Homo sapiens: one gene and its partner. The protein of the gene in region 1 interacts with the protein of each later gene in a pairwise test. Each region holds a gene or a part of one and is shown on either strand. Other genes may lie near its edges.

Region 1 (3,826 bases):
AGAATGGCGTGAATCTAGGAGGTGGAGCTTGCAGTGAGCAGAGATCGTGCCACTGCACTCCAGCCTGGGCAACAGAGAGAGACTCTGTCTCAAATAAATAAATAAATAAATAAAAATAAAGAAAGAAAATACTCTACCAAGATAAGTTTATCACCACCAATGTCTGGATGAAGACCTAAAAGTCATGTTTATCTTAATTGTGAATGACTTAATTCTCAAAAGAATAACTAATACTTTAGATGATATAACCAGGAACCAAAAATGTGGTCTGAAATGAAGAGCTAGTACCAGTAAGAGGAAAATTAATACAAACTAGCATAAAGTCCTATATTCATGTTTGAATAATACATGCAAGTAAAAGATGAGGAAATATGGCTTAGGAATAATTTGTATTTTAAAAGTCTAGGAAGGTTTTCATTACCTTACCTAAAGATGACATATCAAAAAACCCATTTTAAGATTAAGCTGAATGAATACAAGAACATTATTCAGACAAAGGGCTACGAGAAATAAAGTAGTATAAAGGAGCAGAGATTCCAAAATGATAACAGTCAAATACTGACTCCCAAGGACAAGAGAAAGAGAAAATTCTAGTGCCAGAAATCACACAGGCTCACATACACAAAACAGGGCACAAGTTTCAGGGACCTAGAAAAACACAGAAAAAGATGTACATGCTAATTTTCAACACTCTTTAAAATGAGCAAGGAGAAAAACCAGAGTTTTTATTTCAGTTTTGTTCTCTTCTTCTCCAGCAGGTTTTATTCTCAAAGGTAACAGCATTTTGGAAAAATTATAAATAAAACCAGAATATAGAAAAATATTTCTTAATTCCTTGAAGAAAAATACAAGTTTCTTGAAATGACTGCTTATGTCTTATCTATGTACTTTAATTCACGTTGGTTGCCCCTGCCCAGAATGTCTTTTGGAACAACTGGCATATTCACAATGCCACCTCTCCAGCAGTCCTCTCACTACAAGCCCAGGACCTTTTCTAACTTCTTCCCCATGGAGCAGCTGACATGTGAGAGGTCACAATGCCAACACGTTCTCTGCACTTTTAAACAAAAATAAGCTCTCCGGTCTCTAAAATACCACAGCACTACTATTTCTTCTATAATACTTATGACATTCCACTTGGTAATTCAATTATCTGTAAGTTTCATCTCTTGTACCAGATTATAAGGTTTTGGTGAACCAAAAACCCTCTTATCCTGGTAGATACCAAAACAGGTGTACTTCAAAGGAGAAAAGATGAGAAAAGAAATGGGGAAGGGGAGTAGAAGAGGGGAAGAAATAGAAGGTCCAGCAATAGCGGAGGACAGCGATTGCAGAGCTACCTGGGGTGGAGGTGGGGGATTAAATTTGGGGTCTATCTTTTGGCTTCAAATGTCCAAAAGACATTCAAATGGATTTGAAATGTCCCCTGCGATTCTTGGGAATTCAGCCTTAGGTTACTATGAATTCAAAATAAGAAACATCAACTTTAACTACTACGAAGGTCTAACTCTCCTTCTTCAGCAGTAGGGAAAGGAAAAAGGATTATGGAAATGACAAAGATTTTAGAAAGCAGCCCTATACCTTTATCCATAAGAAAAACACACATTTTCAAAAGTTCTAAAACAGGTGGTAAAACCAAAAAAATGAATTATTACACTAAGTGTAAGATTATAAGATTACATCAATGGATTTTGCTTAAATCCTTGAAACAGCTGGGGAAAAAAGTTTCTTGAATTTTGCTGTGATTCTTCTTCCCTGAATTAAAATAATCTCTCATATCTAAGTGCCATATTTTCTCCTAACACATAAACACTTACCATCCTCCTCAGGCAACTCCTCTGGACTAAGTTCTACCAATTCAAAGCCATGTTTGATGCACCATTCTTGAGCTTTTTGTCGGTTTATACCTAAAATAATATGCAAAAGAATCTTCATAAGTAAAAAGAAAATAAAACATGACTATTCCTGCAATATTCTTCACAAATCTCAATGTGTTTCCCTTAATGTCAATGTTATTCTAAAGGCATCTAAAATAATAAAAAGAAAATGACTTCTCAGCCCCGAAGTATCCATTCTTAAAAAAAAAGTAAGTATTACAAGATTCCAAAGAAAAATAGCTGAAAATATTTTCATAAAGCCATAAAGTCACATGGGATGTATGTCCTAAGTTAAAGAAACAGATGTACTCTGTTTATCAAGGAATGGCAAATGCATGTACCAACTACTGTCCCATCCACAGGCCTTACCATCTTCAGACACTCTATCGCAGACCAAGATCATCACCTCAGGTAACCATGCTTTTGCCAGTGGAAGCCATGAGGAGACACTATCAAGGCCCGATTTCTAGAGGGAACAAAAAATATAAACAAACAAAAACAGAAAAGAGATAGTCAGACAAAATGTAATGGGAAAAAAAGAAGGCATGCAATAATTTCTTATTCAAGCCTTCATAGAAAACAAAGTCTTACTTGTGTGCTGTCAAAGTAAACCACAAATGCTTGGACAGATTCTGCAATCTCTGCAGTAACAAGAAATTTGTTTGGCACCACACATAGATTGATGTCTGCTGAATAGTATTTATTATCAATGGTCCAGGGATAAAATCTCACAGCATCATTGGAAGTCACTTCCACAATAAGATCTTCTGTTCCAAGGATATCTAAAAATAAATGACAACATTACCATGTAAAGTGCAAAACCAATATACATTGGTTGATTTTCTCAGTCAGATACCAGATAAAGCTGGTACTTTTGCTGTTTCCTTTTATGTGAGGATTTCAAAGGACCCTGCATTTATTAGCTTTAATCCTATATTCTCTGATCATCTGATTATAAAAGTTATGGTGATATAATTTAAGTCATTGACATTTTCTCTTTAAGAACACAAAAATCATTGTGAACTAGATTAGACAGTAGTAAAGGAAAAAACAGTCATATAACCAAATATCCAGAAAAGAGCAAGTAGAAGACAAAGAATGACAGCTCTATTTATTGTATTGCTTAAGTACTTCATAGGAGGTAGACAATAACAATCTTCTAGAATTTGTAACTATTTTGTACTTATTGCAAACTAAAAGGAAGATAGGATTAAGGCTAAACCATTAATAAAATAGAAGAGCTACATATATTTCTTGGACTGAATGCTTAGACATTAATTCAGCTAATGAAATAAAAGAATGGATACTGATAAATGACCCCAATCCTATTTATATTCAGCCTTGTTCACATTCTTTGAAAGCCAACCTAAATTCTTGTTTGATCAAGACACTTCCGATAAATTTTAAATGTGTAATAGCCAAGCAAATTACTATAAATGTTTTAGATTATAACTGAATCTTTTGGAAATCTATGTGCAGCATGTATATAACAGGAAATCCCCACAGTAAGAGACAAGTCAATGGTGAACAAATGAATATAGACATGGTTATGGAGCCATGGAAGCATTTTGCTTCCATTATGTTATACAGTATTTACAACTGGAAGAGAAGTTAGAAGTTGTTCCAACCTAAACTCCCGTCTCTCACACCCATACCCATAACCTCCACTTTATACAAATGTGGAAAATCAGCTTATAGAAGTAAAATGACATGCCATTAATTGACTTATCAGAAGAATATAATGAAAAACAGTCACAAACTCCTCGTCAATGCATACTAAGATGAACACGTATTAATGAAATGTGCCTCAAACTCATAATTAGCAAGACACTGAAAACTAGAAATTAAATTTTAACTCCCAGAGCTAACATTATATATTTGAAAAGTTGCCATCATTTTTGCTCAACATAAAGTTATGGGGAAATTATTTAGTCCAAAAGACTGCTAGG
Region 2 (3,826 bases), on another chromosome or scaffold:
GTATCATTGTTATTAGGGAATGTTTTAGTATGTTTTCTTCATTCAAAGCAAGCAATCTTTTCATAAAATTATATACTCATGAAACAGACTGCTCACCTTCACAGATTTTGTCACCAAACTGCAAATGAAATCCATGAATCCAAGATCTTTGTAGCAGTGGGTAATCAAAGTTCCTTTAGCTAACGGCACTCCAGATTGCTGTTATTGATGGAAAGAACAAACTACTAGCAACATTCATCAACTGATCCTTATTTTAAAGCATTTACCCTAGTAATGTCTTCATACTGCTACAATTCATAAATAAAAAATATAATCTCTCCTTATAACTGGTGGTGGTGATGAAATTAACACATAAAATCATGTAAACTTAGAAATTCAAAAGAGAAGGTCAGCAATGAGGGCAGAGGTATTTAGTGAAAGATGTTTGCTTATCGTATGTCACATTTTGAAAGGTATTTATCAAAATCTGGATTCTCTAGATTCTTAGTAACTTTACTGGTTCGATTTGGTTTCTGAGCCACTATGATACGCTTCTGTCATTGCTTTACAATAACACTAAGAACAGAAATAGACTAGGAAACTGCACAACTTATACCACTATTCCCACCATCTAGCGTTGTACATGGTATGTAATAGATGCTCCATAAATACTGATTAAATAAATGAAAGGAGAATTTTAAGTGAACTTTAGTAGGTGAGTGGAGTTTGGCTACCTGCAATAAGAGTGCCTAGGGAGCAGCAAGATCCAAGGTAGATTAGAGGAAGAATAATTTTGATGCTATGGGCAGAGTGAATGTTGGGAAGAGCAGTTAATGAGCTTTATCAAAGGCTGGCCTTCTCCAACATTCTTTAGTTCAAGTGCTTTACGTTCAGATTCTTAAATTCTCCTTCTAATTAAAAAGTCCTCATTACTCCTATCTTACTAATTCTGAACACTGACCCCACTACCATCATCAGCCTAATGTGCACAGCCTCGTGATCTGTTAGCTTACCTTCATCCCCATTTGCCTCCCCCCCTACCCTGGATCACCATGCCCAACATGCAGTCAAGTTCCTGCTAACAACATACATCTACTTTCCTCCACCATATGTTGCAAACAAAGTGCTAACGGTTAGTCAGTTGGTTTTCCTACAATAGCATGCTGTCTTTTCTTACCCAGACCCTTCCTGTTATACAAGCATCCTTTTCTTAGTCTGTAAATTAACTCCTAGCATCTTCCTCACAACTTTAGTAAATTCTTGAAACCCCTGAAGTTATCCTTATCCTTTTAATTTTTGTAAGTATTTTCTGCCTTTCTTCACCTTCAACTTTTTTTTAAGTTCTCAGTTCCAAATTTAAAATGCCAAACGGCATGGTACGATACAAAGGCACAGACTCTGGAATCAGATTTGGGTTCAAATCTCAACTCTGCCACTTTATAGTTATGTGAACTTTGGCAAGTAGCCTGTCCTCATCTGTAAAAATGAAGTTTTGTGATAATCCAAGATAATATAATGTACATTGCCTAGCCTGATGTCAGATACTAAATAAAAGCTAAATATTATTAACATTAATAATAGTTTCAATTGGAAGTCAGGAAATAAAAATGATGGAGGTAGTTATCTGGACTATCCCCAGGAGCAATGACTTATTTTTTCCTAATTAAATCCCTTAATCAAGATCTGTAATGATTACAGACATATGTCATTCAGCAATTATACCTTAACTGGCAACAACCAGAACCATCTGTGCTTTGAATTATTAATTTTTAGAAGCTGTATGACTCGCACAAATATTCTTGTCTCGTGGTATGGCAGAACACAAGCAATGAGGCTATCTTGATTATAGAGATGTATATGGAACCTGGGGAAAAAAAGCAAACAGTCCAACTGAACACAAAACTTAATAATAAGCACCTATTTCCTCACATGCCCAAACTGTATTATTAATAAGCTAAAACAACCTAGAACGAGTAGCAGTAAAAATCACAAAATTATAAGATACAGAGCATTTAAAAAGTCCCCAATTTTGCATTCACATATCCCTCAACATGGTCCAGCCAATTCCTATGCAATATCTTTGAATATTCTACATCAAAATATACATCCCATTAACTTTCTCTCAGCTTTACAATTTTTATTTAATTTTTTGAATAGAGTCTTGCTCTGCCACTCAGGCTGGAGTGCAGTGGCACGATCACGGGTCACTGCAGCCTCAACCTCCCAGGCTCAAATGATCCTCCCACCTAGGTCTCCTGAGTAGCTGGGACCACAGGGGAGCACCATCACAGCTGGCTAATTTTTTATTTCTGTGTAGAGACTAGGTCTCCCTGTGTTGCCCAGGCTGGTCTGTCAACATTTTTTTTTTTTTTTTTTTTTTTTTTTTTGAGAGGGAGTCTTGCTGTTGCCCAGGCTGGAGTGCAGTGGCACAATCTCGGCTCACTGCAACCTCCACCTCCAAGTTTAAAAGATTCTCCTGCCTCCGCCTCCCAAGTAGCTGGGACTACAAACTCATACCACCATGCCCAGCTAATTTTTTTTTTTTACTTTAGTAGAGATGGGGTTTCACCATGTTGCCCAGGCTGGTCTCCAACTCCTGAGCTCAGGCAATCTACCTGCCTCAGCCTCCCAAAGTGCTAGGACTACAGGTGTGAGCCACCATGCCTGGCTAAGATGTTTTTTCTAATTCTGCCAACTGATCCCTCTTCTGTGAAAACTCTCCTATCCTTTTACATCGTGTACTTTTTTTAAACAGTACCATACATTGCCTTTTATTAGATTTTTTTTTTTTTCCAGAGTCTACTTGGTCACCCAGGCTGGAGTGCAGTGGTGTGATCTCAGCTCACTGCAACCTTCGCCTCCCAAGTTCAAGCGATTCTCATGCCCTAGCCTCCCAAGTAGCTGGAATTACAGGTGCACAGCACCACACCCAGCTAATTTTTTTTTGTATTTCTAGTAGAGACAGGGATTCACCATGTTGGTCAGGCTCGTCTCAAACTCCTGATCTCAAGTGACTGGCCTGCCTCAGCCTCTCAAAGTGCTGGGATTACAGGCGTGAGCCACTGAACCCAGCCTCTTAGTTTGACATACGGTTTTAGCGGTTACTTTTTCCATGAAGCTTTCTTCAACTATTCCAGGCAGAACTATATCCACAAAACTCTGCTTAATCCTTTATTATGGCATTTATTTCAAAACAGTAATCAACGGCAACCTACTTATCTATGTACTGAACTTAGTATTTGCTGAATAAATAAGTTATCTGAAGACATAAAATGAAAAATCAAATGCAAAAAGTATTCCTTACATTAATGATCTATTTGGGGGTAAAGTTAGGTGCTAGAAAACAGATGGAAATATTACAGACTTTTAAATATTCTTTGTCTGATTGCCCTAATGTTCTGACAATCAGAAGACCCAAGTTAAAATCATGTTTTCTTGATGACTCACTTGCTTCTTGAAAAAAAATTAGTTTATCCCCACGTCTCCATTTTTTGTTTTTTTTTTTTGATACGGCGTCTCCCTGTTACCCAGGCTGGAGTGCAGTGGCGTGATCTCAGCTCACTGCAAAATCTGTCTCCTGGATTCAAGCAATTCTCCTGCCTCAGCCTCCCAAGTAGCTAGAATTACAAGTGCTCGCCACTGCGCCCAGCTAATTTTTGTATTTTTCACACAGACAGGTTTTACCATGCTGGCCAGGCTGGCCTTGAAGCCATGTCTCCAATTAATGGAATAGAAATCTACTTTTAAAACATGTAAGTTGGACTGGATGTGGTGGCTCATGCCTGTAACCCCAGCACTTTGGGAGGCCGACTCGGCAGGAGGATCGCTTGAGGCCAGGAGTTCCAGA

What was found.
Region 2: the proteins of AAGAB (region 1) and HEATR1 interact in a two-hybrid assay, tested with the Homo sapiens proteins (one large-scale study listed by BioGRID).

What each region holds. Positions count from the first base shown.
Region 1 is NC_000015.10:67,234,162-67,237,987, forward strand, and holds part of AAGAB (alpha- and gamma-adaptin-binding protein p34), read right to left. Parts: intron 2,660-3,826; coding exon 2,469-2,659; intron 2,344-2,468; coding exon 2,247-2,343; intron 1,908-2,246; coding exon 1,818-1,907; intron 1-1,817. UniProt on the Homo sapiens protein: May be involved in endocytic recycling of growth factor receptors such as EGFR.
Region 2 is NC_000001.11:236,597,782-236,601,607, forward strand, and holds part of HEATR1 (HEAT repeat-containing protein 1), read right to left. Parts: intron 1,844-3,826; coding exon 1,702-1,843; intron 199-1,701; coding exon 97-198; intron 1-96. UniProt on the Homo sapiens protein: Ribosome biogenesis factor; required for recruitment of Myc to nucleoli. Involved in nucleolar processing of pre-18S ribosomal RNA. Required for optimal pre-ribosomal RNA transcription by RNA polymerase I.